Regions from separate parts of the Homo sapiens genome. Here all the other regions are linked to region 3. Evidence: fine-mapped expression QTL. A gene starts in region 3. Each other region holds a variant in brackets. All regions are shown on one strand. Distances are from middle to middle.

Region 1 (11,157 bases), 30 kb before region 3:
ATTGTGTGTTCTTGTAATCCTAAAAATTAAAGCATGTGTATTTAATTTATCAAATTCTAATAACATTTAGAACATTTATTTCCTCCAGGAAAGTCAATAGTGTGATGGTAGATTTAATCCCAAATATATAAATAAATACGTCATATGTAATAAAATACAAATATTTCAGATAAAATTTTAAAAGGTCAAAACTGAACTAATTACTGTTAAAAAGAAGTAAATTTTAATGCATACAAAAACTGTAAAGTACAAGGATGAGAAATGATGTATCGAGCAAACCTTAACCCAAAAAAAACTGATCAGAGAAAATTGACCTTAGAGCAAAATATGTTACTGATGAGCAAAGGGATTAATTTTTAATTATAAAAATAGTACAATCTTCAGAAAGATGTAATCATTTTAAGTGTGTATATATTTAATAACAGAACCTCTAAATATACATAGCAAAAGTTGACAACCCACAGAATATTAGATAATATTTTAATACATGTAATTAAGAAAGGATATATATCCAGAATACATAAAAAACCAGGGAACATTCAGAGGCTGTAAGCAATATTCTTGATAAAAATAAGATGATGGCTTGGCTTGAGGAGGTGGGAGAAATACAGAGTTAAAAAATGCTTGTGTAGGATTAGAATACGATTGATGGAGCATAGAGGGTATGTAACAGAAGGTATCAATGACAAACTACCAGACATTTAACACAGACAATTGAGCTAACTGTTGGGCCTTCTACCAAGAAAAGACACTTGCAGTCCCATAGCCCTCCTAGGGTTCCTGATTCCTTTAGCTCTTGCCTCTCTTGATTAGGGACTGTTGTAGGGTTCTGAAATAATCTCCACATAATATTCCTTGTGCCACCTTCCTACCCAGCATTTCCACTTCTGCCTGGACTTGGCCAGTAGCCATAGCCTACTCTTGTCCCAGAAAGCACCCAGACAAGAAGGACAAGCAATGCACCCACCCCCCGACACTGGTAGCCGGGCAGGCAATGCTTGCTAGAGCTTCCAGACCAGTAGTCCTTCTTATATGTGAACTCAGCCAGAAATTGCAGTCTTTAGGTGTGCCAGAGGGCACAGCCTCCTGTAATCAGAAAACACCCTGACAGCAGGGCAGGTGATGCAACCCAACCCTGCCACTGGTAGCCTGGTGGGCAATGCCTGCTAGAGTTCTGGCCTAGTGGTCCTACTTCTCTGTGAACTGAGCCAGCAGGTGCAGCCTCCTGTTTCCCTGGGAAGCATCCAGATGCCAGAGAGGACAGCCCTACCCACTCCTACCACTGGTAGACAGGTGAGCCACATCTGCTGGAGCTTCCAGCTCAGCAGTGCTACTTCTTTCTGCCTGAAATTACCAAGAAGTGCAGCATTCTCTTGCCCCAGAAACACCCAGATGATAGGGTGGGCAACTCCACCAATCTTTGCCTTTTGTAACCAGACACCCCAGCTTATAGCCCAGTGGTCCTGCTTCTACCTAAACTCCATAGGTAGGGACAACACTGTGTTACCCTGGAAAGCATTCAGACAGCAGATTAGCGCTAAGCTGTAAGGATACTACTTGTCCGCCAACTGTGGCCCCTGCCTAAGGGAGTTCTGTGGACCAGAATGCCCAACATAATAAATGTGAGCAGAGAGACAGTAATCAGGGAAGCCTCATCCAATACCCAGGAACTGACTAGGATCAAAGCCAGTCTACTGACTAGAATCAAAGCCAATCAACTAAACCCAACTTATACCACAATCAAACCCCCAAGGGCATCAAAGGCAATAAAAGAAAAAAAAAAGCCCATCTAAAAGATAGCAGCTTCAAAGATTGAAGGAACATCAGCACAAACAGATGACTGAGAGCTGTGCAAGAACTGGCAACTCAAAAAGCTAGAGTCTCTTCTTATCTCCAAATTACTCCGCTAGTTCTCCGGCAATGGTTTTTAACCAGGCTGAAAGGCTGAAATGTCAGACGTAGAATTCAGAACATGGATAGGAACAAAGATCATCAACAGCAGAAAGTCTACACCTAATCCAATGAATCTAAGGAATACAATAAAATAGTACAGTAGATAAAACATGAAATTGCTATTTTAAGAAAGAACCAAACTGAACTGATGGAGCTAAAAACACTCATTTCATTAATTTCACAATCACGTGTAGTTTTTATCTATCTTATTTTTATTTCTTATCTGTCTTAAAAATCCACTTTATTGAGGTATAATTGGCATACAAAAAGCTGTATATATTTAATGTATACAACTTGATCATTTGGTAGATAAATATACACTCATGAAACCATCACCACTTTCTGTCTTTTACTTTTTCTTCTGGAAAATTTAAAACACACACAAAAGTAGGGAGGTTAGTATAATGAATTACCATACATCCACCAGTCTGCTTCAACAATTATCGATAGTTTGCCAATGTTTTCTCATCTCTCTCCACCCTGCACATATTTGTAAGAGTATTTTAAAGTAAATCTCACATTTAATATCACCTCACTAGTTTATACCTTGGTATGGATCATTAACAGATGACACTTATTCCATAACATTTTCTAATATCATTATCACATTTTACAGCATTATCAATAATTCCTTAGTATCATCGAATATAGAGTTCATATTCAAATTTTATTATTTTCTCATACATATTTGTTCATTTTCTTAAGTCAAGAACACCCCAGCCCCATCCATCCAAAGGCCAGACATTGCATTTTGTTGATATGTTAATTAAGTCTCCTTCAATCTATATTTTCCCCTTCCCACTCTTTTTTATTCATGTCATTTATCTATTAAAGAAACCATGTCACTTTTCCTATAGAATATCTACATTTCAGGTTTCTTATTTAAAAATTTCTTAATTTTTTTATACTTTAAGTTCTGGGATACATGTGCAGAAAGTGCAGGTTTGTTACATAGGTATACACGTGCCATGATGGTTTGCTGCACCTATCAGCCTGTCATCTACATTAGGTATTTTTCCTGATATTTTCCCTCCCCTAGCCCCCGACCCCCCAGCAGGCCCCTGTTGTGTGATATTCCCCTCCCTGTGTCCATGTGTTCTCATTGTTCAACTCCCACTTCTGAGTGAGAACATGCAGTGTTTGGTTTTCTGTTCCTGTGTTAGTTTGCTGAGAATGATGGTTTCCAGCTTCATCCATGTCCCTGCAAAGGACATGAACTTGTCCTTTTTTATGGCTGCATAGTATTCCATGGTGTATATGTGCCACATTTTCTTTATCCAGTCTATCATTGATAGGCATTTGGGTTAGTTCCAAGTCTTCACTATTGTGAACAGTGCTGCAATAAACATACATGTGCATGTGTTTTTATAGTAGAATGATTTATAATCCTTTGGGTATATACCCAGTAACGGGATTGCTGGGTCAAATGCTATTTCTGGTTCTAGATCCTTGAGGAATTGCCACAGTGTCTTCCACAATGGTTGAACTAATTTACACTCCCAGCAACAGTGTAAAGGCATTCCTATTTCTCCACATCCTTTCCAGCATCTGTTGTTTCCTGACTTTTTAATAATCACCATTCTAACTAGCATGAGATGGCATCTCATTGTGGTTTTGATTTGCATTTCTCTAATGATGAGTGATGAGGAGCTTTTTTTCATATGTTTGTTGGCCATATATGTGTCTTCTTTTGAGAAGTGTCTGTTCATATCCTTTGACCACTTTTTGTTGGGGTTGTTTGTTTTTTCTTGCAAATTTGTTTAAGTTCTTTGTAGATTCCGGATATTAGCCCTTTGTCATATGCATAGATTGCAAAAATTTTCTCCCATTTGTAGGTTGCCTGTTCACTCTGATGATAGTTTCTTTTGCTGTGCAGAAGCTCTTTAGTTTAATTAGATCCAATTTGTTAATTTTGGCTTTTGTTGCCATTGCTTTTGGTGTTTTAGTCATGAAGTCTTTGACCATGCCTATGTCCTAAGTGGTATTACCGAGGTTTTCTTCTAGGGTTTTTATGGTTTTAGGTCTTACGTTTAAGTCTTTAATCTATCTTGAGTTAATTTTTGTATAAGGTGTAAGGAAGGGGTCCAGTTTCAGTTTTCTGCATACGGCTAGCCAGTTTTCCCAACACCATTTATTAAATAGGGAATCCTTTCCACATTGTTGTTTTTATCAGTTTTGTCAAAGATCAGATAGTTGTAGACGTGTGGTGTTATTTCTGAGGTCTCTGTTCTGTTCCATTGTCTAATATCTGTTTTGGTACCATACTGTAGCCTTGTAGTATAGTTTGAAGTCAGGTAGTGTGATGTCTCCAGCTTTGTTCCTTTTGCTTAGGATTGTCTTGGCTATATGGGCTCTTTTTGGGTTCCATATGAAATTTGGTAGTTTTTTCTAATTCTTTGAAGAAAGTCATTGGTAACTTGATGGGGATAGTATTGAATCTATAAATTACTTTGGGCAGTATGGCCATTTTCACGACATTAATTCTTCCTATCCATGAGCATGAAATGTTTTTCCATTTGTTTGTGTCTTCTTTTATTTCCTTCAGCAGTGGTTTGTAGTTCTCCTTGAAGAGGTCCTTTACATCCCTTGTAAGTTATATTCCTAGGTATTTTATTCTCTTTGTAGCAATCATGAATGGGAGTTCAATCGTGATTTGGCTCTCTGTCTGTTATTGGTCTGTAGGAATTCTTGTGATTTTTGCGCATCGATTTTGTATCCTGAGACTTTGCTGAATTTGCTTATCAGCTTAAGGAGATTTTGGGCTGAGACAATGGGGTTTTCTAAATATACAATCATGTCATCTACAAACAGAGATAATTTGACTTCCTCTCTTCCCATTTGAATACCCTTTATTTCTTTCTCTTGCCTAACTGTGGTGAGAGAGGGCTTCCTTGTCTTGTGCTGGTTTTCAAAGGGAATGTTTCCAGCTTTTGCTCATTCAGTATGATATTGGCTGTGGGTTTGTCATAAATAGCTCTTATTATTTTGAGATACATTTCATTAATACCTAGTTTATTGAGAGTTTTTAGCATGAAGGGCTGTTGAATTTTGTTGAAGGCCTTTTCTGCATCTATTGAGATATTCCTGTGGTTTTTGTCATTGGTTCTGTTTACGTGATGAATTACATTTATTGAATTGCGTATGTCGAACTAGCCTTACATCCCAGGGATGAAGCCGCCTTGATCGTGGTAGATAAGCTTTTTGATTCACTACTGGATTCAGTTTGCCAGTATTTTATTGAGGATATTTGCATCGATGTTCATCAGGAATATTGGCCTGAAATTTTCTTTGTGTGTGTGTGTGTCTCTGCCAGATTTTGGTATCAGGATGATGCTGGCCTCATAAAATGAGTTAGAGAGGAGTCCTTCTTTTTCTTTTGCTTGGAATAGTTTCAGAAAGAATGGTATCAGCTCCTCTTTGTACCTCTAGTAGAATTTGGCTGTGAATCCGTCTGGTCCTGGGCTTTTTTTTACAACAATAACAAACTGCCATCTGCTTTTTATCACCTACTTGTAAGAAATTCTACACAATATTGATAACAGAATACTCCTCTCATAAAAAAAAAAAGTTGATTTCAATTCTATCTGAATAATTACCTGCTTCAGAGGCTGCCCTTGGCATGACTCTGTGTCATCTGTTCTCTTCGGGCCTCAGAGGAAACTGAACAGAAAGCTACTCCTGCCTATGTCCTGTTGTGTATCTAGAGGGACAATTTAGCCTCCAGCTTTACACTGCCTCCAGAGCTCAATTACATAGAAAAACCCAACCGTCCTCAGGACACTTTGCTGC[C/T]ATCTGCTGGGAAATTGTGAAAAGTACACAAAAAGTGGTTGGAGCCTCAGATTTGCCTAGCGTTCCCCCTAAACACTCACATGGGACGGTACTTTGTGTGTGCATGTTATTGTATAAATGCATGTGCCCTCAACTATCAGAAAGCATATGGACCATTTAGCATTATCTAAGCTATAAAGAGTTGAGATGCAAAATTTCCTTCCATATTACTTTTTTCTGTTGTCTAGCAAGAGTGGTACCCGAAAATCACTGGAGTGGTCTTGAGGATTTTAGGTGTCTCTGTGTGCAAGTGCTGGAGGGAGGAAATAAAGAGGGTGCCAGTATATGGAAGTGTAGAGAAGCTGTATCATTTAAGAAAGTGAGACAGGAAGAGATGTAAGAGGAAGAAAAGGAAGCTCAGAAGTCCTGATGAAATTACATTACACTGTGTCGGGCTTTGTTCTAAGTGCTGGATGTATATATTTTCTCATCCTGTGATCATGGAGTATTATTATGTTTAACTATCTCCATTCTGCAAACAGAGAAGGAGATACCAAAAAGTTATAAAAGTTGCTCAATATAATGTTTGTGTGTTTGAAGAAGTAAATAGGTTTCTGGAGGGAAAGTGCTCATACATCTGTCTGGTCTGCTGGATTAGATGCCAGTGACCTCTCTGAGCCTATGCTGACCCTGAGTTTCAGATCCGTAAGGGCAGTGGCAATCTGTTGTGAAAGGGACTCATGTTAGTGCCGAGGTCAGTGGCCCTAAGCTCCAAGACCAGGCTTGCCCATGCCAGCAGCCTCTCTACTGTGGCTCTTGGGGCTGCAGCAAAAACAAATGCAGATGGGCAATAGTTATTTTCAGTGAGTGAACCTGGGGGCTTCCTTTGCTTCTGCCCTTATAAATAAAAATAAATTTTCCAAGCCAGCTGCAACTCTGCCATCAGCAGTTGCCCTGAAGACTGCAGTAGAATGTCACCAACATGTCATTGCAGGAAACTGAAACTTAGGTCTTTGTTTCCAAAGTTTGGGAAATACTCATAGTGTCTGAACATGGGGTGAGAAGGGAAAGGAAAACTGGGTTGTTTATAACTGTTGGGAAACAAAAATGTGCTGTGTTTTTATGAGGTTTCTCTTCAGTTGCTTTTCATTTGTTTGAGAGGAAATCTACTGCTTGGTTAATATAAAGTATCTATTAGGCAGAAAGTTGCCCATACCACTGTTCTGGAGGGTGTAGTTCCTCTGTACTTTATGACTTGTGCATGACATTTTGTCCTGAAAAGAGTACTCATTGTTTGAGGGGCTACAGTGAAACACAAAGAAAAGAGGAAGACAGAAGGTCAAACAAGGGGAAAATATTTATATATATATTTGGCACTCAGGGACTTTTATAAATTGCTGAGCTGTATAAAAATGGTACATTAAGTAAAAATAAAACAACTTTGAGGTTCCTAGGACACTTATATTTTCCTCTTTTTCTTTTTTTGGTATTCCTTCAGAAAGGATCAGCTTTATAAAAAGGTGAGATGATAAATGTTTCAGAATAACTTGTAATGTTTATATGCTAATCGTGAAACTTTATAAACATAGATAAAAGAGTAGAAAATGATAAAACAGATATCTACATATCTTCCCCGAGATTCAGGTGACATGATCATTTTCTGTATTTAGATACATCGTTTTCCTCCTTACAGAAATAAAATGCTGCAGGTAGCCCCAAAGCTCTCCCTGTCTCCTCCTCCCCCTGCCTCCTTCCCCAGAGGTATTCACAGTTAGGAGGGAACTTCCTCTGTCTCTAGCCTCACATTTCCTTCCAGCAGAACTTCCTATAGAGAAACACACCTGTTTATTTCCTCTCCTTAACCTGATTCTCTTCAGGGAAAGAGGAATGCTGCACAAAGTTGCAGAGTTTGGAAGGAGGGCTTGGGCTTGTGTGGTTCAGCCCCTCTGTGTTTGGAAGGAGGGCTTGGGTTTGTGTGGCTCAGCCCCTCTGTGTTTCTTCATTTGTTTGGGAGACAGTCTTCCTACTAGACAGCATCATCACCTGCTCTTCCCTTCCCTTGCTAGGGTTTGGAGGTGCCTCTTCTTACAGAGGAGGCCTGGCATGACCCAGCTCTGCCAGTGACTGGTTTGGCACATTAATTGAATTTCATTTGGCCTTGAGTTGAAGGAATTCTTTTCTTATTTTGCAAGTCACTCTAAAGAGAGGACTAGAAGAAAGGGGTATTGTGTATAGGCCCTAGTTCCCCAAAAAACCTATGTTCAGAGACTAGGAACTTTGAAAAATATATTAAAAAAAGCACTTGGGGAGATTGATGCATCTGATAGCAGTAGGAGGTAGACAAATCCTAGGCAAACAGGGGCAGGTGTCTGGTGAACCTCATCTTCAAATCAAAGACAGTTTAAAGCCTGAAAGCCAAGCTACAAGTCTTGACAAATCCACAGACCAGATTGAGAACCTATCTTCCTGTTTGGCATGCTTTCCTCTGAATGATTCTTACCTTTCACCTGTTTTACATGTACCTACCCTTCCCTAATTGGTCTTTTACGTTGTCATGCCCACCTTTGAGTGTTGCCTTTGTTTTAGCCTTTTTTGCATACTCACAAGCCAATCAGCACTCACTCTGCCATTCTGAGCCCATAAAAGCCCCAGACTCAGCCATACTTGGGAACTGACCACCTCCGGGTGAGAGAGAACACCCAACTTTGGTTGGGGGACCACCCTTGCATCCCCTCTCTGCCAAGAGCTGTTCAGTCTCTCAATAAAATCCTCCTCCACTCTCCTCACCTTTCAATTATCAGCATAACCTCATTCTTCTGGGACGTGGGACAAGAACTCAGAACCCACCGAATGTGGGTACAAAGAAGGCCGTAACACTGTGGCCCTCTGCCCTATGACAGTGGCGGGAGCCACCCCATGCAATGAGAAGCAGTGGCAGGAACAAGCCAGCCCTGGAGCTGCAGGCTGGAGTGAGGCTATGGGACTGACAGAGCTGTTTACACACTACCATCCATCAAGCTGCAGATGGTGCGACTAAAATTGCTATTAGTGTGCTGCAACACCCCCTCTGGGGTTTCAGCATTGTGGACACTTCTGCCTGGGTGCCACCGTGTTCTCCTCATCTGGATGCTGGAGTCCACTGTGGGAGTCACTTGTGACATGCCTGGTCAAGCCCTGCATGAAGCCTGCTCCTGTGTCAGTGCTTGGAACGGCTGGCCCAATCCCTCACTCACTCACTCACACACCTCCTCCCACTAGGGGATGAGGGCACTGTTGTAGTGTACATGGGATCCATGCTGGAGTGCAAACCAGGCATGGTCTGGCAGGCTGAGTAGATGGGGCATCTCCTACAGTGAGCCCAGAACTGAGCAAGGCCTGGGTAGGGGCCATCACCAGCCAGAGGTCTCCAGCTTGCAAAGTGGTCAAGAAAAATCCTGTGTCACATCTGTGGTAGCCTTGATTGGGTGGTTTCAAGTCAACAATGAAGTCCAGTGTTGGTTCTACATTGGTAACACAGTAGTATGTCACTTAGGGGCATCATGGGACACTGGGAGATGAGGTGGACAAGCCTTGTTTGAACAATGGATGCTTTTGGAACACTAAGAGTCTTGAAGACTCAATGAAAGGGGTATGTTAGGAAGACAAAAATGTCCAGACCAGTAAGAAAAAAAAAAGACAAAAGAAAGAGAAAAGAAAATAGAATATACTATAATCAATTAACGTCATCAACCTTACAATGTTACATCAACAGATATGGAACTGGATCCAATTAAGGAGCAGATGAATTGTTAGGAGCTCAGTCAAGCATTCCAAAATGTGGGAACACTTCAGAAGGATGCAGAATTCGAGGGTCATACATAAATCATGCAGAAACAAAATGCTGTGGATAAAAGAAACATTTCCATTTCTTTGAGGTACCACAGTATTTTAGGATGAAGCACCACACACAAGGCCTGAACGATCAAAGGCTGAAGAGATGCTAGACTCTGGAGTGGAGCACATTGGTGGAGGGACTGGCTGTCCTGAGCCTCCAAGGGCCACCGGCTCCCTAGGCCTACATAGCAGCTTTGGTTCACCCTTTCTCTCAGAGCTGTTCTTTGGCTGAAATTACAATGAGGACAAGGGGAAAATTGTGCCTGTAAGGTTTGCTTTAGAAGCCTAAATGATTCCATTGAAAGAAACAGTGGCCATAGCTACTGTGGCAAGGGACTTTTGTCACTAGAGACAGATCTCACTTGATGCAACATGAGGATGCCAGGAACACAGAGACCAGAGAGGAAATGAATATCAGGAGGTTTTGAATAAGGCCAATGGGACAGAAGTGCCTCAAGAGTGACTTTGGAACCTGGGGCCATCACCAAATTTGTAAACTTTGCAAAGGTACCATAATGTAAACCAAAAATAAAATTCTAAGGCCCCAACCATCTGAATGGACTTCCTCCTCAGCCAGGGCTCTTTTAAAATTTAACCCAAAAGACTGGTTCAGGCCTTGATGGGAAGTGGGGGTCGAGCATGCTTCCTTATACCTCTCTGGCATTAACATCAACACAGACTTTAGGTCTGATAAAAAAAAACATTTTACAGCCTATTGCCTCTGAAGCCTGCTACCTAGAGGCTTCATCTTTATCATAAAACTTTGGTCTCCACAACCACTTATCACAAACCAGATATTCCTTTCTATTGATTCCAGATCTTTGAATAAACTCAACCAATTATCAACCAGAAAATGTTTACATTTACCTATGGCCTGGAAGCCCCCACAACCTGCCTCTTGCTTCGAGTTGTCTCACCTTTCTGGAAAAAAGCAATATCTTTCTTAAATGTATTTGATTGATGTCCCGTGACTCCCTAGAATGTATAAAACCAAGCTGCACCCTGACCACCTTGGGCACATGTTCCGAGGATCTCCTGATGGCTGTGTCACAGGCCATGGTCACTCATATTTGGTTCGGAATAAATCTCTTCAAATATTTTAGAGTTTGACTCTTTTCATTGACAATAATATCTCAAAGGCCATGCTCTGAAAGAGAATATAATATGCACACACTGATTTCTCCGTCCTCCACTGATGGCAGCATGAAAAGGTGCCTGAATTCAGGGTTAATTGATTTTAACACAAATCATTGACTCTGAAAATCTGGAGTTGATTGTCATCCTTGAGATTGAAAATCAAGGTTTCTTTTTCTCCGTCTACCCTCCTTCCTTCAGATACTCCTGAGTTATTGCTTTGGTGTTTGGAAATAATATCATGGGTATAGATTAAGTATTGGGTCTGGTACATAATTTTCCCTGGGCTAACTGTTTAAGAAGCTTGATATTACTGTCATCATCTACATTTTGCAAATGTGAAGCTGGTACTAAGAAAAGTTGGAATACTGCTAAAAAAGAAAACCATCCTTAACCCCATGCAGAATTTGAGGGATATCACTGAATGAA
Region 2 (11,157 bases), 400 kb before region 3:
ATCTTTAATTTCTCTAGGTCTCCAAAATGTAGAAAATAGTTCTTATCTCCTAGGTTTTCATGAGGAGTCAATGAGTTAATATATGGAGGGTGCTTAGAGTAGTACCTGGTGCGTAATAAGCAGTACGTAATTGATGGCTATTATTGTCTCACTAATAACCATCAACTCAGTTATACCTGCCCAAAGTCTGGTTGTTATGCCTGATACTTCTGTCTCCTTTGATCACTTAACCAACCAACCAGAGTGACACATTCTACCTTCTGGGACCAGTCTGTCTCACCCTGCCTTCCCTGCCAATAATCTGATCAGCATTTCCAGTTTCTTGCCCTCTCCGAAATAGCTTCCACATTTGTGTGTTACTATTCACTTGTAGCCCTCTCCAAGCCATTCTCCCCCCAGCTCCTACAGCAGCACTTCTCCAACTTGAGTCATATATGGACCACATTTAGAGAAGGAATTCTTGAGGAACACAGTTTGAAATACACTGTCTTAAGACTTTTAATCCAAGACAATGGAAGTTTTGAATTTTCTTTTGCAACAGAGATATGTTGTTATTGTGCTGATGTTTTTAAAAAATATTTTAAAATCCTCATTCCTGGTTAAATCCTTGAAGCCTTCCACTGCATTTCAAATAAAACTCCAGACTTGAAATGTGATCTCTAAGAACAAGTACTTTCTGGCCATTTGTTAGCCACTTTCTTGACATTCTGTACTTTCGTTTGCAGCACTTATGAAAATAGCAATTAATTTTTGCAGAATTATTTCTTAACTGTGTGTATTTAATGTTTGTTTCCCTGCCTGACTGTGAACTCCTCAAAGGCAGCGATACACCTTTCTCGTTCACTATTGTGTCCTCCACGCTACCATAAAAAATGCCTATGATGTAAGAGGTTATCAAAATGTTTGCTGAAAGGAACCTCAGATCCTTAAGCCAAATGACAAATTAATAACACATACCGGTAGATAATCTCATTGGATAAATATTAGAAGGTTTTACAGGAGCAAACTAGGAAAAAAGTAAATGATAGAGGGGCCTTCCATGGAAATCAGGAGTGCCGTGGGGATGTAAACATCTGGGGTTAAAGTCAAAGTGACCCAAGCATTAAGTATGTTGTTGACATTTACCCAGAATTCCTTTATCTCATCAAGCAGATCCACTTTGAAATAATCAATATCTTTCGTTTCACTTCTCTCCATGCTAAGTAAGAGTTACGTAATTCTGATTATTTGCTTGACTTACTGAAGGCGAACATTGATGAGTGACCTAAGCACAAAGATGTTTAGTGAAACTCAGGTCCTTTCAGGCTTATTGGCAAAGCAAAACAAGTCCCTAAGAGGGTTCCCAAGGAAATCAGTAGATCTCTCCCAAGACAAGTTATTAGGGTAGTGCAAAACTGATCGCGATTTTTGCCATTAAAAGTCATTGCAAATTAAAAGTAATGGCAAAAACCGAGATTACTTTTGCACAAAACTAATACTTTGTGTGGAGGACAAACGGCCCCAAGTCTGCTCCCACCTCACATGCATGGGGACTGGAGCAAGGGTACAAGTGGAGGCACATATCATGTATATTTACATAAAAGCTTTAAATGAAGAAACTGTTAAGATATGTTATGTCTCCTATTTTGACAAACTGACTTTCATAATGCAATAGAAAGATAGACTTTAGTCTACAATTCTCAGAGTCTAGAATCTCTAGAATTTCACATTGGAACACTGCAATGTGGTGAGAGCCACCATCTATCTCCACTGTACTACCATCCCCTGCCCATGGCCCATGGCCAAATCCTTCCTCTTGCTAACCCCACTCTGATCTGCATTGTAGGGGGCCTCAAGTGCACGTGTGTGGACACTCCAGGTGTTGTGTCCAAGCTCCGTCCATATTTCCAGCAGACAACTGCCTCTTGGCCACCATTAGGCCCAGGGCTATATACACCTGAGAGAACTGACTCAGGGAAGGGGCTCAAGCAGCCCTTGGATGTTAAGTTCAAGGCCATTTGGGCAGGAAATTATGAAGGCTTGGGAATTGGATGGCATGTTCCTTTGTTTCAACACATTTCTTGTGCCCAGAGAAGAACATGATGGAGAAGTTCAGAGCGATACCCTCTAATGCATGGGTCCCTGAGCAGAGGCTCTTCCTTCCCAGATCTGAGGGTGATTCAAAGTGGTATGGTAGCAAACTGAATTATTCCATCTCTTTTTCTGTTATAATATGTGGGTGTGTAGAAGAAGTTAATATGGGAGGTAGATGTGACATGTTTCATTGGGTGAAGGAATTTTTATTTTATTTTTTATATCTCTTATGGGAAGGCTTTGTTTAGACTACTGATTCTGGAACTTGGCCCAATGTCATGCTAGTTGGACTGGTCTCTGTTTTCTTTTAGGTCATTCCAGATTCTCAAAAGATAATGACTAGTGGCACAGATAACATACATATTTTGCAAAGTTTATATTATAGATGTTGGAAGTCTCAGGAGATTATATGATGAGAAATAGGATTTGGATTCATTGTTTTATTCCTTATTGATCCATCAAAGATGTCATTTAATGAGTAGCCCCAGGCACATTTGGTTTATTATTTAAAATTATGATGTTACATTTCAGGTCAAAGGATGCTGAGAATTTATAATGTTGATGTTTTAAAAAGGATCTAATATAAAACAGATATAAATAAAATGAAAATAACTGAAAAAGAATTGGAGATCTGCCTCCCTCCTCCTTCATCAGCAGCCCTGAGGACTTCTGCTTAGAGTTTCTCAAAGTGTGAGCCTCCAGGAGTCACCTGGGGGCAGTTGTTTAAAAATGCAGATTCCTGGGTCTTGCCCCACTGAGTTAGACTGTGAGAATTTGCATGTTTGACAAGACCCTGCAGTGACTCATATGCATTCTTACATTTCCAGCTACAATAGATCTCAATGGACTAGATTGGGGTTAGAATACACATATTTTTAAATGGTGTTCCAGATAATTTTGAAAATTAATCTAAAATTTGGGAGCCATTGAAATAAATACTTTCTAAAGTGAACATGCCTGAGGCACAATCTCAAAGTATGATCCTGGGGTCAGCAGCATCAGCAGCACCTGGAAACTTTCAGCAATGTAAATTCTTGGCCCTTCCATTCCCAGCCCTGAATAAGAATTTCCTGAACACAGTTCAGCTATCGGTGTATTAACAAGTGCTGCAGGTGTTTTTGATGCTGCTAAAGTTTGAAAATCATTTCCCAACAATTCAATAAACATGCATTGACCTTCTGTGAACATTCTGTTCTAGGAACTTTGGAGGGCCTGAAGAAGTCACAGTTCTCAAAGATTTGTCAATGGGACTTTATTTGCAGCCTGATTTTGGTTCTGGAGTGATCAAGAGAATGTCAAGTTTCAGCAGGGAGAAAAAATTATTTCTGTGAATATAAAAATAGTGGTTTTTATAAAGAGTTTTAATTTTGTTCTTTATACTTTCTGTATTTTCCAAACATTAAGCAACTTAAATTGGCAAAAACAATACATTCCTGGAAAATATAAGCCATTGGCAAAAAGTGATTTGTAAATGTAGTCAGCTGGGTGTGGCAGCGGGTATAAAAGTATCAAAAGCAGGGCAGCCGCTTCCAATTTCCTGAATTTTTCAGGGGTCATTAGTTGGCAGCTGACGTCATGAAAGATTTTGTGAGGTTACAGTCCTCTTTCCTTTTGTGCACGATTTTGACTCTTTCTGAGCAAGAGTCAGGTACAAGTGACCTTTATATTTTGTTGTTTGAAGTCATAGTTTCTTAGCGGTTGTGGGCCTTTTACTGTTTGCTGTTTTGAGTGGAAGTGACTTTCCAGTATAGTTTTCTGACTTCTGTAGTGGTATTGCTTTCTCTTGTTTGCTCTCTACCACCCCGCAAAGCAAGTGATTTATCTAGTTTATCCTAATACTTGAGAAAGAGCTAGTTTTATTCTTCCTCTGGATTTAGGTGTTTTCTATTGTGTTTTGTCACCCTATTCACCCTACCTGTGGAAAAATATTTCTCTATTTAAGGTTTCAACTTGCTCTTCCACCTCCCACCCTGATCTCCCACTCATAATCCTGCCACCTGCCTCCTGTCCTGCCCTGTTGCCTCCTAAGTGGTCATGAGTTAGTGATCATAAATCAGGTTGAGAAAATAAAGTTCTTCATTTTTTCTCCTTTCACTTCTTATTCTCCCTAAGTCATAAAGTTGTTATCATTAATATTAATAGTTTTATTTGCATTCCACTTACTTTTTCCATATTTTACAGTAATCTTTTCTCATCTAAACTATATATTTTTATTTATGTACAAAGTTATTGGGTAGAAATAATACATATAAAATACATATAATTTTGTTATTTCTAGTTTTTTTTTTAAACCATGAAAATACAGTGATGAATTGCTTTATCTATAGGATATGTTTTTGTCTAAAAATGTTTTTTGGATATGCTTCTGGTAGTAGAATTAATAGACACAAAATGAAGAAATGCTGTTGTAACACCACAGCTGTGAATGTTTTGAGTTGACAGACTTACCACACAAGGTTTTAATCTGAGACTATCTTCCTTTTGCATCATAGAAGGATACAGGGTGGAGACAGAGCAGGTGCAGATCTTCATCTTATTGGCAGGTCTAGCAGATGCCCCAGGGTACAGTTTCCCTTGTCTCTTCACCCACACGGGATGTAGATGTCTGCCAGGGATGAGAGTCAGAGGCCATAGAAGCTGCAGCTTCAGTGCCCTATC[A/C]GTCATTTACACTGGCCTAATTATGTAAACTCAAGGCCAGCACACCAGCTTGAGGCTCCCCCAATCCATGGGCAGCCCCATACAGCAAAAGAAGCAGAGACAGCATCCCATATTTAGCTTAATGTTGAACTTTTAAGGAAACAGTACTCGCAGGGAAGGAGACAGAGGTTGTTTCCAGACAGGCTTGAATGGGACTGATCCTTCATTTACAATTTTACCATTTCATCTGAGTGATCATATTGTATCTCTCAAGGCTGTTTTACAGTGGTGTATATACATATGTTTAAATATGCTATGTTCAGACTTTCTCTGGGTGTCGTTTAGCATAAAATTGCTATCTAAATGTTTAAAAAAATTTTTTTTCAACAGTGTCAGTAGGATGTACTTCCTCTATGTTCTGGGTTGTGGCTGAACCAACTTTACTTGGTCAAGATCATATTTTGCATTCTGATGAAGCATCTCTGGGAACTGGCTGTCCTGTAACCAATGTAACTGCGAAGGGATATGAGTTTAATTACCCTGCCACTCAGTGTGGGATTCAGAAAGAGGTAAGAGCTGCAAGCAGTTCAAATAATAAACTAACCCCTAGGTTGTACCTTGCAGTAGTACTGTGTGTACTGTCAGTGCGAGATTTTTTTATGGCTCTTGAATTACTTTAATTTGGTACTTTCAGGATAGGAAGACCAGTGGGTACCTTGACTTGGCCATAAAATATCATGGCACATAGCCCATTGTGGAGGAGAATACTTCAACATATATAGTAGTATAACTATCCAAGCACTCTTAAGTCTTTTTTAGTCCTTACATCCCCTAAAGTCTAGAAGCACTTAAAGCAGGCATTGTTCCTAGTTTTCATAGTAACTGAGGCTAAAATGAGTAACAATTTACCATAGATCATGCATCTGTTCAACAGGTATGTAACTGAAACTTGCATGTTGGTAAATTGGGATTTACATTCTTCCTTTGAAGAAGCAGGCGATGAAAAAATGGATGATACCAGAGGTAGAATTCACTAGGGGAAGTCAGAGGAAAAAAACATCTGAGGAGGTTTGAGGTGGAGGTGGATTTGCTCGTATGTTGTTTCTAATTTTGACATCTATGTCCATGAATGAGATTGGTCTATAATTCATTCTTTCTCATATGCTCCTTGTCAAGTTTTGAGACAGTTTAGTTAAGATTGGAAGTTTTGGCCAGGCATGGTGGCTTACCCTATAATCCCAGCAGTTTGGGAGGCCAAGGCGGACACGTCATGAGGTCAGGAGATCGAGACCATCCTGGCTAACATGGTGAAATGCTGTCTCTACTAAAAAATATATAAAAAATTAGCCAGGCATGGTGGCATGTGCCTGTCCAGTCCCAGCTGCTCAGGAGGCTGAGGCAGGAGAATTGCTTGAACCCGAGAGGTGGAGGTTGCAGTGAGCCAAGATCATGCCACTGCACCCCAGCCTGGGTGACAGAGCGAGACTATCTCAAAAAAAAAAAAAAAGATTGGAATTTTTTGATCCTTGAATGCTCAATAGAAGTTAATGATAAAATCTCCTGTATCTTTTGTTTTTCTCTGGTTTTATCACTGGGATGAAGTTGAATCCAGGTGATTAAGGCAATAGAACTAGGGAGGAGGAGAGCGAGAGTTTTCTGACAGCAACATACAGACTATTCAACATTAACCTTTGGTGGAGGAAGAAAAGTGGACTCTGCATTCAGTTTGCAGTGGTTTTACAATATGACAAAAATAGTATATTTTGGGAGGCCGAGGCAGGCAGATCACCTGAGGTCAAGAGTTTGAGACCAGCCTGGCCAACATGGCAAAACCCTGTCTCTACTAAACATACAAAAATTAGCCTAGTGGCCACCTGTAATCTCAGTAACTCAGGAGGCTGAGACAGGGAGAATTGCTTGAACCTGGGAGGCAGAGGTTGCAGTGAGCTGAGATCATGCTACTGCACTCCAGTCTGGGCAACAGAGCAAGACTCCGTCTCAAAAAAATAAATAAATAAATAAAAGGTAGTGTATTTATAGGAAAATTAAGTGGTGAATAACCACACTCTCCATTTAGAGGTATGTGTGTCCTATACAAACAATTCTGATTTCCTTCAATATGCTGTTTCACATCTACAAAACTTACTTCATGAAAGTTTGCAGATTTTTAATTTCTTTGGCCTTTGTGGTTTTTCCCATATTTCAAAGTATGACTTATTATGGATATAGGGAAATCATTACAAAGGCCAAAGAATTAATAAGCCAACTTTTCAAAGTTTATACAATTAAATATGAGACACTAAGAGAGGCAGAGACATCAGCCACAATGTTATTACAGGAGGCACAAACTATGACGTAGAATAACCAATCAGAGCTGTAGGTTTCTTTTGAAGATTTTTTTTTTTCCCCCCTGTGGCATGAAAACCATTTCTAAAGTTTTCAGGGTCTTATAAGACCCCTTCGAAATTACCTTTCAAGGACAGATTGTATATGGAACAATTTGGTTAATGTTTAAAATGTTTTCAAATTTCCATAGTATACAAAAGCAATGTTAATATTCACATATTCACATGAGTATTTTGATTTAATACCTTATCAAATCAGATTCTTTGAGTTTTATGAGTCAAAGAATCTCTACCTTGGTGGCTTCATTTCTTTCTTAGGTTTATAATTTATTATAAAGATTTTCCATTTAAAGGGCAGGATCTAGAATTTCAACAGTATTAAAAACAAAATGAAGGACTGTAGCAATCAGTTTAAGTAGCAGACATGGATTAGGAAAGAATAATTAAACATTTAAGTGTACAATACAGTGGTTTTTAGTACATTGACAAAGTTGTACAACTATCACTGCTCTCTAATTCCAGGATATTTTAATCACTTCTCAAAAATGCACCCATACCTATCAGCGGTCACTTCACTGCCTCTTCTCCCCTAGTTATAGGCAACCACAAGTCTAATTTCTCTTTCTATAGATTTGCATACTCTGGATATGTCATATAAATTCAATCATACAATATGTGGCCTTTTGTGACTTTTGCTTGCATGTTTTCAAAGTTTATCTATATCATAGCATGTCTCAATACTGCATTCTTTTTTATGGCTGAATAATTGTTTTCATTTTTTGTTACTGCTGTACCTTTGTGTACATGTTTATGTGTAAACATTTGTTTTCAATTGTGTTGGGTAAATACCTAGGACTGAAATTTCTAGCTCAAATGGTAACTCTATATTTAATTTTTTGGAGTTGCATAGTCTTTTATTTTTCTAAAGATGGTGAGTCTTTGGCTGAATGTCTTCAATGAAAGGTCTAGCAATCAAAGTTAATAATTTATTTGTCCCAACTTCAATTCTTTCCTGGGAACAACTCTTTATTCTATTGTTTGGTTTCTTTCTTTACCACTCACCTAAAATACTAGTTTTAAAACTCACAGGATCAAAACAAAACACTGAAACGCCAGAGTTGTTTAAAATGATTAGATTTTATTAAACAGCCCATTTGGACACCTGTTCATTGGAACTGATTTTTGCTTCAGCCCTAGTTCTTTGAGAAATGCAGGAATTCTTTTCACCACAATATCAGCTTGATCCAAGAATGTTGAAAAGTTAGCTGCCTTAGCGATATTGCCACCTCCAACCTCCAAAGAAATCTAAAAACCTTAGAAGATTACATGTAGTAAAATGTGAACAGGCACCATAATGTACAAGTCATTTGAGAACTATAATTGTGTAGAATTTACTCACTTTTCAAATTATTTTTCTGAATGAATAACAAATTTGTGAAACAAAATATATGGTGCTTAGAAGAGTGGTTAAATGATGGGTTAGCTTCAATGCGAAACTTTTTCTGTCTTAAGAAAGACAGGGGACTGCACAATAATCCTGTGAGGTAGGTCCTCCTATTATCCCCATTGTACAGAAGAGGATAATGAAGTTCAAAAAGATTAAGTAACCTACAAAAGGTCATACAGCCATGACTGTCAGTCTCTTGCTGGACACTGCAAACTTAGCTACTTTTAAAGGAAGATAATTTTAAATTGAGTACTAATTGTTATGCACTAAATGAAAACATTAATGTGATTAATGACAAAATATTTCACAGATAATGGGTTTTCTAGAAAGGTTAGGAAAACCAAGGTTAAGGATTCTGGATTCATATACAGGTCTTTTTCAAATATAAAACATTTCTAATATTCCTGGTTTACTATTGGGAAGAAGGGAAGAATCTTGCCGTGGCTTAAATAACAGACAGCAATTTAATTCCTGGTTATATGTGCAAAAGAATTAATAACAGTTATTTAAACAAATATATGTGCACACATGTTCCGGAAGTGAAAAGGAGGTGGCAAAGAGAGACACAGAAGAGAACTGCTGCAGCTGCTGCCAGGATCCAACTGAACTTCAAACTGTTTTATTAATTTTATTTCCAAATTGTTCATTGCTAGTGTACAGAAATAGAACTGATTTCTGTCGATTGATCTTGTCTCCTACAACATTAGTGAGCATGCTTATTAGTTGTAATAGTTTTTTTTTTTGGGTGGATCTCTTATGATTTTCTATATACAAGATCATGTCTGTTTGTCTGTCTGTCTGTCTGTCTGTCTGTCTCTCTCTCTCTCTCTCTCTCTCTCTCTCTCTCTCTCTCTCTCTATGCAGTCTTAATCTGTTGCCCAGGCTGGAGTGCAGTGGCATGAACTCAGCTCACTGCAACCTCCACCTCCCAGGTTCAAGCAATTCTGCTGCCTCAAGGCTCCCAAGTAGCTGGGACTACAGGTGTGTGCCACCGTGTCCAGCTATTTATTTTTTTATTTTTAGTAGATACCAGATTTCATCATGTTGGGCAGGCTGGTCTCGAACTCCTGACCTCAAGTGATCTGCCCACCTTGGCCTCCTGAAGTGATGGGGTTACAGGCGTGAGCCACTGTGCCAGGCCTCATGTCATCTTTAAATAGAGATAGTTTTAATTTTCCTTTCCAATCTGGATAATTTTTGTTTTATCTTCTTGCCTAATTTTCCTAGCTAGAACCTCCAGTACAATATTGGATACAAGTTGTGAGAGTGAACATCTTTGTATTATTTCTGATTATAAGGGAAAAGCTTTCAGTCTTTCATTGTTAAATATGATGTTGGCTGTGGGATTTTCACAGGTGCTCTTAATCAGGTTGAGGACGTGCCCTTTTATCTTTGGTTGTGGAGAGTTTTTATCATAAATGGTATTTAATTTTATAGTTTTTTCCCCTGAAACTATTGAGATGATCATATGGGTTTTGCCCTTTCTTCTATTAATATGGTGTATTACATTGATTTTTGTATGTGGAGCCAACATATCCTTTTCCTGGGATAAATCCCATTTAGTCATACTGCTTAGTCCTTTTTAGATGTTGCTGGATATGGTATGCTGAAGTTTTTATTTTTTGTTGGGGGGGCGCGTGGTTAGACAATGATTTCTTCTCTTTTTTCTTCAACTTTAATTTTAAGTTCAGTGGTACATGTGCAGGATGTGCAGGTTTGTTACATAGGTAAACATGTGCCATGGTGGTTTGCTACACAGATCATCCCATCACCTAGGTATGAAGCCCAGCATGCATTAGCTATTCTCCCTCCCCATCCCCCTGACAGTCCCCAGTGTGTGTTGTTGTCCCCCATGTGTCCATGTGTTCTCATCATTCAGCTCCCACTTATAAGTGAAAACATGCAGTATTTGATTTTCTGTTCCTGCAGTAGTTTGTGGAGGATAATGGCTTCCAACTCCATCCATGTCCCAGCAGAGTACATGATCTTCTTCCTTTTTATGGCTGCATACTATTCCATGGTGCATATGTACCACATCTTCTTTATCCAATCTATCATTGATGGGCATTTGGGTTGGAAGTTTTTTTACGTACATTCATAAGGTACATTGATCTATAGTTTCTTTTTGTGATGTCTTTGGTTTTAATATCAGGGCAATACATCATAGAATGAGTTGAATAATGTGCCATCTTCTATTTCTTTTTTTAAAAAATATTTATTTTAATTTTTTAAAATTTTATTTTATGTTCTGGGGTACATGTGCTGGATGTGCAGATTTGTTACATAGGTAAATGTGTGCCATGGTGGTTTGCTGCAACTATCAATCCATCACCTAGGTATCCAGCCCAGCATGCATTAACTATTTTTCCTAATGCTCTACTCCCCCACCCTCCCCTGACAAGCCCCTATGTGTGTTATTCCCCTCTCTGTGTCCATGTGTTTTCATTATTCAGCTCCCACCTTTAAGTGAGAACATGCAGTGTTTGGTTTTCTGTTCCTGTGTTAGCTTGCTGAGGATAATGGCTTCCAGCTTCACCTAAGTCCCTGCAAAGGACATGATCTGATTCCTTTTTATGGCTGCATAGTATTCCATGGTATGTATGTACCACATTTTCTTTATCCAATCTATCATTGATGGGCATTTGGGTTGATTCC
Region 3 (11,157 bases):
GTCATTAAACAGACCCTGTCCTTAGGGGACACTGGCATTTATTTTGCATATTAATATACATAGGCACCAGTATCTGAGGTTAAGTGTTAAGAATTTTAAGAGTGTTTTCTTAAGAATAATACCTTTCTTTGCTACATATGTACTATTTGAAGAACCATTTCTTAAGCACAAAGGAAACCCATATGGGAAAAAAAAACATTTTGTGCTTTTAATTTAGAATTATATAGGCACTGGAAAAATATTTTTATTAAAAGGATACAAAATAATATTTTTTCTAGATTCAAAATGAGGAATTACAGTGCTTAGATCTATCACCTCAACTTTACATGACTCCTACTTCCTAATATATTTGTTTTCACATTTTCCCTCTGTTCTAATCTTTTATTCCAGATATCTCTAAGGCTTTTACCAATCTCTTTAGCTGAGATTGTAATATAATTTTCTCTGATACTGTATCTCAGTTCACTGCTGACTGATGTGCCACCTACATCCATTCTCTGCATTGTTTCTATTTTACCCACCCAATAGCATTCAACAGAAATGTTCCTACCTGGTGTCAGACATTGAGAAATGTTGAAATCAAAAAGATAAATAAGATACATTATCTGTCCTCAGAGATACAATGAACTGGTAAGAAAAACACTTATAAAAATATAATTTTCAAATAATGGCTAATCTTGGTGGATTAAACACATCTATTTCCTCATGAAACCCAACTAAATGACTATAAAGGGTCTGGGAGAAAGTCATAAATCCAAAAATTCAAAAATAATATGAGAGAAATTGGATCATTTTTTTAAATGTTAGAAACCAGCTAGACAAGCAATAAATGACTTAGCAGCCTCCGGAAAGTGAAAACCTGACTGACGGAATTGGAAGCTTAGAAAAAATTTGATTCTCTTTGTAGAACCCCAGTAAGTCTCAAGAATTATAAGTGCTTTCAGTTGAATATGTCTGGGGACACAGCTAATTGTCTGAGAAGGTAGTTGTATTAGTATGTTCTCACATTGCTAAAAAAGACATAACCAAGACTGGGTAATTTACAAAGAAAAAGAGGTTTAATGGACTCACAGTTCCACATGGTTGGGGAGGCCTCAGAATCATGGTGGAAGGCAAAATGCACATCTTACATGGCGGCAGACAAGAGAGATTGAGAGCCAAGCAAAAGGGAAAACCACTTATAAAATCATCAGATCTGGTGAGACTTATTCATTACCACGAGAAAAGTATGGGGGAACACGCCCCCATGATTCAATTATCTCCCAGTGGTTCCCTCCCACAACATGTGGGAATGATGGTAGCTACAATTCAAGATGAAATTTGGTGGGGACACTGCCAAACCATATCAATAGTGAATACTTAAGTAAGTGAATTCCCTGAGAATAGTGAATTAAGATCCCTGAAGGCCTAGAGTATAACCAGTCCTAACTGGAATAGGAGAATATAAGGCGCCAGGAAGGGAGAGTGTATACAGAAAAATACTAATGAAACAGATCAATTACCTGTGGGTCTATAGACACTGAGATTTACATTTATGGTGGAGTATTTAAAACAACTTATTTTCAGGTATGTAGAAAACAGCATATGAAACATGAGGCAGTTACTAACTTCAGAGAGAAAAATGGTCAAAAGGAAGCGTAATCATAACACTCATAATGAATTAGCCATTAATGATTTAAATACTATAAATTGAGTTAACTAAAAAATCGTGATAAAACTATATGGGAGAATGAGGGAAAAGGAAGTGTTATGGTGGGAAGGTGTGTCCAGGGTAAAAATGAAGGATATAGGGGTTAGTCTATTGTCTTCAGTAGTAGGAGGTTAGTGCATAATATATAAAACCAAAAATTAGAACAGTATTTAAAATCATTCACTTAGAAATATGGAGTCAACACAAAAAGAAACAATTAAAATTTAAATACTTGCTTCTGGAGAAAGAAAATTGATTGGGAACTGGGGAAGGGGGCACTAATGATTTCTTTCAGGCTAAATCCAGTGAACATTTTACTGTTGTTAGCTTGTCTCTCTGAAGTATTTAATAATAATTGAATGATTTCTTCCTACTGAAATATTTCTGTGCTCAAAAAATGATAAGTAATTTATTTATATTACCTAATATAACCCTTTCAACAACGCTATGACATATTACTATCTATATTTTACAGATGAGTAAACTGAGGTGCAGAAAGCCTAAGCAACTTGCTCCAGCTCACATAGGGCATAGGATTCAAAATCCAGCTCAAGGCCGGGTGCAGTGGCTCACGCCTGTAATCCCAGCACTTTGGGAGGCTGAGGAGGGTATATTACTTGAGATCTGGAGTTCGAGAACAGCCTGGCCAAAATGGTGAAACCCAGTCTCTGTTAATATATAATATAACATATTATATAGAGATACATTCTATTATATATATAATATATTCTATTATAATATAATATATATTCTATTATATAATATATATTATATATTATATCTATTATATATAATATATCTGTATATGATATATAATTATATATAATATATAGATATTCTATTATATATAATAGGATATATATTCTATATATATAGAATATATATATTTCTCTGTCAAATTTCATGTTATTGTTCTCTTGAAATTGTTATCTGCTAATAATAACCTGATACTGTCTCATTTCATACCATATGGAGTGGGAGGAGAGACTGATGCCTGTCCTTAGTCCAGAATTTCAACCTCTCTTAGGAAGTCATGAAACTCTGTACCCTTGTCTTCTGCAATGCCACATTTTCCGAGTTTGCCTGCTATCTTCCTTACCCTCTTTTTCATAATCCTCTGGGAAATCTTATTTCTGATTATACTGTCTCTATCCTCTAGAAAAAGGGTTTGACGTTTTCTGCCTCCACCCACAAGCCTGGGTGACCTCATCCCTCTGGGCGAAGAGCTGTTGGGTTTACCTCTATAGCCATGTTCTCATTCCCTAGCTCCTGCCAGTTATCCACTTCTTGTCAACTTTATTTGAAGGTCCCTACACAACTCTGATCAAATACGTTCAAAATTTTACTATTTGTTCCTGCAGTTCTGTCCTGGTCCATGTCTATTGCCTTACTGAATGGCTCTATCACTCATTCAGTTTCCTAACCCAGAATCTGAGTGTCATCCTTTCCTGTTTTTTCTCCTGATTTACACATCCATTATACCAACAAGTACTGTCATTTCTTGTTCCTAAGCATCTTTCAAATCCATTCATTCTCTCCAACTTCACTAGCATCACAGGTAGTTCAGTAACCATCATCCCTTCCCTAGAGAACTGCCTCTACCTTGAGCCTAATTCTCTGATTTTATTATTATTTATTCCTGTTGTCTGAAACCAGGACAATATTTCTGAAATATAATCTATTTTAATTTTGAGAATCGTAATTTCAGATTATAGACCACATAGTTTTTGGAATTAAGTAAAACTGGATTTCAATCTCATCTATACCAGCTATACGAATATCTCTGAGTTTCAGTTTCTTCTTCTGAAAAATAGAAATAATAATATTACCTTCCTTCATTCCCTTTCCATTTGTGTGTCTTTTGCTCATTCATCAGGTCTCCAATTAGATGTCCCCTTATCTAGGAAGTCTCCTCTGCCTACCCAATGTTGGGTTCATTGATCCTCCTATGAGCTCTCTTAGGATATCCTACTTTACCTTGCAGATCACTGATTACAATGGGTTGTAATGATGTATTTACTCATCTGTATTGCCACTTTACCTTGCAGATAACTGATAGTAATGGATTGTAGTGATTTATTTACTGGTCTGTTTTTCCAAGTAGTCTATAAACTCTTTGAGTGAAAATTATTTTTTACCATTTTTTCAGAAGCACACGGCACACTGCTTGGCTTATAGTAGTTTTTCTAAAGAAAATGCTGAATGAATGAAAACTGCACACCACTTTGCTTTCCTCCTCCATGTAAAGTAGGCATTATTTTATTTTACAAATGAATCTTAGGTTCAGGAGATTAACAGGGCCATGCAAGAAATGTTTGCCATTGGTTTGATCTTAGTCAAAGACCAGCTCGTTCTATGATACCAGCTGCTTCCTTCACTTAGAAAGGTGTTGTTTTATTGCCATACAACCAACTTGTTGCCATTTTATGGCCACTCCTGATGAATCTCTAAAGGTGGAATTTCATGTAAATAAAACATTTAAGTTGTGTATATTAAGGTTGGTGCAAAAGTTAATTGTGATTTTGGCCATAAAATAATGGCAAAAACTGCAATTACTTTTGCACCAACCTAATAAAATAGTAATAGTAGTGCTCCAGGAAGACAAGAGTACTGTGGAAATGTGTGACCCTGTGAAAGGGGGTATTTACAAAATACCATTTACTTGTTTATATAACGACTTTTGAAGAGAGTCTGGCATACAGTAAATCCTCTACCACTGATATCCACAGTAATTAGCAGTATTATTTTCATAGGAAAGACTGTATCAGGCAGCCCCTGCTTTTTCAGCAAATTTCAAAATAGACATCCACACCCATATTGGGAACACAAAATCAGTTAATGCTTCCGATATAAAAGAGGAACTAGCTGTGCGTCTCAGAAATTCTCAGCACAGCCTTTAAGGTTCCAAACATCTGCTAGAAGAGGAATGCAGATTTAAACTGAGTGAGGTGTGGAGTGGGGGAAGTTGATTGGGTCTAGACCAAAGAACTTTGAGGAACTTGCCCAGAGCCCTGCATGCATCAGACCTACAGCAGACATTGCAGGCCTGAAGAAAGGTAGGTCCAGGGACTTGCCTTCCTAGGCTTTCGGGCTGATGGCTTGTTTCACTTCCTGGGTTAAGAATTTCTGGGAGGGGAATGAGAAGAATAATGAGGCCACTTCCCATGACCCAAGCTGGTATTCAGGGTTGGGGTGGGTTGAGTGCACCTTTAAATGTGCATTCGGTGGGGGGATGAGGAACAGTTTTTGCTACAGTCGATAGGAGTTAGAAAAGCCTCCTAAAGGCTGACATTGGAGGCTGGATAAGGTTGTTTAGTTACTTTTGTCCCCTGAGTCTTCAGGATATCAAAACACTGAAAGCAACATTTTAAACCTTTGACTAGTTACCTCATCTACTGTTAATGCCCTTCTTCTGTGGTCTTTATTCTCTGTGTCTGACTGGTTATTTTTATAACTCAGGATTTAAGAACAGATGTATCACATGCAGAATTTGGTGTACATGGAGTAGGGCACAGGCAGGGTCCCCAGCCTTGTACATTTAGATGGGCTGTGGCCTGACCTAGTTCTCCAGTGGTCTTTGGCACTATTCATGGGGCACCCAGGCAGTAAACTGAGGCTGCTCATGATAAAATCTGCTAATGAAAAACACCTTGTAGACTTTTAGCATTCTTAGGATAAGAAAGAAGCTTGTAAGTGGTCGTGGCCATTGTAATCTTTCCCCAGATGAAGTAAAAGAAGCCAATAAAAGGGAAATAATGTACCCAGAATCACACAAGTTAACAAAAGGGCTGGGAGAAAAACAAAAACAAAAACAAAAACAGAATTCTTGGTTCCTAGCCCGGGCCTTTCCCCCTTTTCCCTTCCCATGCCACCACTTCTGCATCCCCATCATCCTTCTAAAACCATCCAGATTCAGGCCTCATTTTGGGTTTCTAGTCTATTTGACAACTTTGCCAAGAAAAACGGATGGCTGTTTGTACCACTCTCCTCATGCTCTCTCCTTGCAATTGTGACCCATGAGGAGGATGGTGACATAAAAATGAGGAAATAAGAGACTGGTGGTGCTGCTGATCCACAAGGTGACTGGGGCCAATAGAAGAGGGAAGGGTGGTCTGGGTTTCCCCACCTCTTTATCAGGGGTGTGGGGGAAAGACATTGTATTTCTTAAGAGCCTGATGCATATAGGTGATGTGGCAAAACCAAGGTTTAAATTCTTCTCCAACCTGGAAGAAATGTCCCTCATATGCATCCAATATTCTCAGCAGTTAAAAAAAAAATTGAATATAGAGAAGTCAAGCCCTGGATGGTAAACACGTTTTTGTTCTTGGGGACTTCATGTGCCGTAGATAATTAACACAAGGATTTCTGTGGTGGAAAAAGAGGAGGCAGTTATATGAATTTATGGCCAGAGTTTCTTAGAATGACAAAGCACCAGCCTTGAATGACCAGAACCTGACCTATGTTACCAAAGAATTATGGGAAAGCATAGGAGTCAGTTACAAGCTTTATTTTGATATAATTGCTCTGCCCTCGAGGAAGCTTACAGTCTTACCAGAGAGGCACTAAACACAGAGAGAGAACCACCAGTGCGTTTGATAAGACAGACCCAACATGTCCTAAATTCTCAGTCTGAAGGTGTGCCTGAGAGATTGAGGCAGAGGTTCTTTTACATTAAAGAAGAATAAAGTACACATTTAGATGGACTAAGAAGAATCATCTTTAGTCACTTTCCAAATAACTTTGACTTTTGCAATGTAGAAGGAACATAACACATTTCTTAAACCCTTATTTACCGTCATAGGCTGACTAATCCACATGTGGGCAATGGTGGGGAAGTGGGGGAATAGTGTCTGAGAGAAGATAGAGACTATAAAATGCTGTTCATGTGTGAGAAGATTAGATGATGTGGTGGGTTTGTTTTTGTTCTTACAAGGTGGTCACAAGAGGGGTGGAACATTCCTGCAAATGGTTTCAATATATGCAGATGTCTCAATATAGGAATGAAATTACGTCTTTGGAACAACTTAAATAAGTCAAATATACTTGGAGCTTTAAAAATTAAAAGGAGAGAGATTCGAGGTAAGACTACAATAGATTTGTGCTGAAGTAGCCGAGCTTTTGTTATCAACATTAAAAATTTTAACTTTATGCTAAGGGTGGTGAAATATAAAAGAAGGCTTTTAAAGGGGATGGTGACTCAATTGTTTTTGTATTTGATCATTCTGGCTACAACATCAGTGGTGGATTGAATATCCAAAGCCACAAATGGACACAGGGAACATTCAGAGGCTATAATGAATACTTCTGATAAAAATAGAATAATGGCTTGCCTTGAGAAGATGGGAGAAATACACAGAGTTGAAAAATGGTTGTGTAGGATTAGAATGAGATTGATTGAGCATAGAGGGTAGGCAATGGAAGGAACCAATGACAAACTATCAGATATTTTTGAGACAGGGTCTCACTGTGTTGCCCAGGCTGGAGTACCCTGATGCCATTGTGGCTTACTGCAGCCTGGGCCTCAGCCTCCTGAGTAGCTGGGATTACAGGCGCCCACCACCACACCCAGCTAATTTTTGCATTTTGTGTAGAGATGGGGTTTCACCATGTTCCCCAGTCTGATCTCAAACTCCTGGGCTCCAGCGGTCCTCCCACCTTGGCCTCCTATACTGCTGGGATTACAGGATTGAGTCAAAATGCCCAGCTTTAAACTTCCAGATTTTTAACATGGATAGTGTAGTTAATTGCTGGACCTTCCACCAAGAAAGGACACTTGTAATTTCATAGCCCTCTTAGGGTTCCTGTTCCCTTTAGCTCTTGCCACTCTTGATTAGCAACTACTTACAGGGCTCTGAAATAATCTCCACATAGGAAGATTTGCGCCACCTTACTTTTTTGAAAGGGAAATTTTGAGGAAGACTGGATGTCTTCTATTTAGGTCTTCTAAGGTTTGAAATAAAAATAACCTCTTCTCCCTTCTGGGACAAGTAGGTAAATTGTCAATTTATGGGCTTTATTAGAATGACTTTAAATTAAGCCCAGAGAAGGACAATTCCCTTAAGTGTAACAAAATTTGAGGATGTGGATTAAATGTAAGACCAAAAATAAGACCTATTTTATTTTAGCCATATGCTCCAAATCTAAATTTTGTGTTCTGTCTAGGAAGTGCTAAAGTGTATATATAGGTCTGAATATACCTACTCCATCGCATATAAATGCAAACCACCTCACAAATTCCATTATCATTGGAACAGAGACTGCAAGAGGAAGACAAGGGCCTCTTGGCCCACCTCTACGTAGTCTTGTTATCTAACTTATTCCAAATTGGGTGGTTTCTACCTTTTAGCTATTATAGATAATGCTGCTAAGAAAATTAATTGTACAAGTTTTTGTGCAAACAAGAGATCTTCCATTCACCAGACTAGTTTAGTGGATCCCCTTAAGCAAAGGAGTTCTGGAATTACATCACCTGGATTTAAATTTTGGCCCTGCCACTGTTTACTCAAGTTACTTAATCTTGTGTTTCTATAATTCTGTCCTGTGAATAATAGAATATATCTCTCAGGGGAATTTAATGATGAAATAACACATATAAAACATTTAAACCAGTGCGTGTCACTTAATAAATGCTAAATACATATTGACTATTATTACTGGTATTCCTACTATCACTTACTCATTTCTGGCTTGAAGTATAAAACATAAACTTCCTTTAACACTTCCTGCCACTCAAGGACATGCTAGACAGGGACTTTACTCCTGTCATGACCCTGCTCCAACCTTCTCCGGTCTTGGGGAAAATAGAAAAGCAGATAAGAGGGGTCTATATAATTGGTGAGAGCATGTTTTTCATGGTACCATGTGGTCAGAGGTTGACTCTTCCTCTCTTTTGCAGTTTGTCTCAAAGATTGGTCAGAAGAGTCAGGATTGTCCTCCTTTTTTGCTCTCAGTAAGTTAGATACAAGACTATGCAGAGGCGGGCCTAGAGGCTCTCCTCTTCCTCTTGCAGTCTCTGTTCTAATGATAATGGAGTTTATGAGGTGGGTTACATTCACATGCTATGGAGTAGGTACATTCAGACCTATATCGACACTTTAGCATCCTCTGAGCAGAACACAAAATTTAGATATGGATCAAAGGGGTAAAATAAAATAGCAGGCCTTATTTTTTGTCTTAAATTTAATTTGTACTCGCAAATTTTGTTAAACATCAGAGAACTGTCCCCCTCTGGGCTTAATTTAAAGTCATTCTAATAAAGCCCATAAATTAACAATTTACCAACTGCCCCAGAAGGGAGAAGAGGTAATTTTTATTTCAAACATTAGAAGACCTAAATAGAAGATATTCGGCCTTCCTCAAAATTTCTCTTTCAAAAAAGTAAGGTGTTACAGGAAAAGTATGTGGAAATTATTTCAGAACCCTACAAGCAGCCTCTAATCAAGAGTGGCAAGAACTCAACGTAACAGAAACCCTAAGAGGGCTATGGGACTGCAAGTGTCCTTTCTTGGTGGAAGGCCCAGCAATTAACTACATTGTCTGTGTTAAAAATCTGTAAGTTTAAGTTTGGGCATGGTGGCTCACTCTTGTAATCCCAGCACTACTGGATGCTGAGACGGGAAGATCACTTGAGCCCTGGAGTTTGAGACCAGCTTGGGTAACATAGAGAAACCCCATCTCTACAAAAAATACAAAAATTAGCTGGGTGTGGTGGCACAGGCCTGTAATCCCAGCTACTTGGGTGGCTGAGGTCGAGGCTGCAGTGAGTCACGATAGTGCCAGTGTACTCCAGCCTGGGCAACAGAATGAGACCCTGTCTCAAAAAAGTCTGGTAGTTTATTGGAGGAACCAGTCCCCAATATTTCAACATAGGTTCTTTTCTATTTTCCCTAAGTGTCAGCCAGTCTGAGAAATAAAGAGAATGAGTACAAAAGAGAGAAATTTTACAGCTAGGCCTCCGGGGGTGACATCACATATCAGCAGGCACCGTGATGCCCCCGAGCTGCAAAACCAGCAAGTTTTTATTAGGGATTTCAAAAGACGAGGAATGTACAAATAGGGAGTGGGTCACAGAGATCACATGCTTCAAATGGCAATAAAAGATCACAAGGGCAGAAGGGCAGAGCAAGGTCACAAGGCCAGGGTGAAATTAGAATTACTAATGAGGTTCCATGTCCTGCTGTGCACACATTGTCATTGATAAACATCTTAACAGGAAACAGGGTTCAAGAGCAGAGAACCAGTCTGACTACAATTCACCAGGCTGGAATTTCCTAATCCTAGCAAGCCTGAGGGTGCTGCAGGAGACCAGGGTGTATTTCATCCCTTATCTTCAATCGCATAAGGCAGACACCCCCAGAGCGGCTGTCCATAGGCACCCCCTGGGAATGCATTCTCTTCCCAGGGTTATTCCTTACTGGGAAAAGAATTCAGTGATATTTCTCCTACTTGTTTTCTGCAATAAGAAAAATATGACTTTGTTCTGCCCGGCCCCGCAGGCAGTCAGACCTTATGGTTATCTCCCTTGTTTCCTGAACATCGCTGTTATCCTGTTCTTTTTCAGGGTGCCCAGATTTCATATTGTTCAAACACACATGTTTTACAATTTGTGCAGTTAACGCAAGCATCACAGGGTCGTGAGGCAACGTACATCTTCAGCTTACGAAGATGACGGGATTAAGAAATTAAAGTAAAGACAGGCATAGGAAATTATAAAAGTATTGATTGGGGAAGTGATAAATGTCCATGAAATCTTCACAATTTATATTCAGAGATTGCAGTAAAGACAGGCATAAGATATTATAAAAGTATTAATTTGGGGAACTAATGAATGTCCATGAAATCTTCACAATTTATGTTCTTCAGCCATGGCTTCAGCCGGTCCCTCCGTTCGGGGTCCCTGACTTCCCGCAACAGTAGTTTGTTATTAATGACTTCTATTACCCACCCTCTATGCTCAGTCAATCATTAAATGATGACCTTCTTTGCCTCTTTTGACAGTTTTTGACTTGAAGTTTATTTTACATGATCTAAGTACAGGTAATTATTCTCTTTAGGCTAGTCTTTGCATGGAACAGTCCATCCCTTAACTTTCAACTATGTTTCTTCTTAAGGCTAAAGTGAGTCTCTTACAGCATCTGGTTAGATCTTGTTTTTTAAAAATTTTCCAGCCGCTCTTTGACTTTTGTTCAAAGATTTAATTCATTTATATTTAAGGTTAGCATTAATGGATAAGGATTTACTAGTGACATTTTATTATTTTGGGGGGGTTTGTTTTTGTAGATATTTGTTTCTTTCTTGTGCTCTGGTCTACCTTTGTGATTTAGTAATTTTATGAATTGCTAAGCTTTGAATTCTTTAACGTTTGTGTATCTGCTGTAGTTCTTTGCCTTGTACTCATCATTAGGCTTACATAAAACCACGTAGTTTTATAAATTGACTATTTTAAGGTGACAATAACAATGTTTGTT

Evidence for each region. PIP is the estimated chance that this variant, and not a neighbour inherited with it, causes the effect.
Region 1: its variant is fine-mapped to the expression of MS4A4A in whole blood (TOPMed, PIP above 0.99).
Region 2: its variant is fine-mapped to the expression of MS4A4A in whole blood (INTERVAL, PIP 0.93).

What each region holds. Positions count from the first base shown.
Region 1 is chr11:60,245,935-60,257,091 of GRCh38, forward strand. No RefSeq gene overlaps it. Among named protein-coding and RNA genes, the nearest start is that of MS4A4E, 8.4 kb to the left of the region's middle. The variant C/T (reference allele first, on the strand shown) is at 5,743.
Region 2 is chr11:59,875,161-59,886,317 of GRCh38, forward strand. OOSP3 (oocyte secreted protein family member 3) reads left to right here and starts at 3,622. Exons shown (of 5, transcript NM_001395255.1): 1 at 3,622-3,721; 2 at 5,101-5,279. The coding sequence starts at 3,649. RefSeq lists a silencer at 1,680-1,880. The variant A/C (reference allele first, on the strand shown) is at 4,732.
Region 3 is chr11:60,275,971-60,287,127 of GRCh38, forward strand. MS4A4A (membrane spanning 4-domains A4A) reads left to right here and starts at 4,696. Exons shown (of 7, transcript NM_148975.3): 1 at 4,696-4,746. The coding sequence starts at 4,706. RefSeq lists a silencer at 4,581-4,630.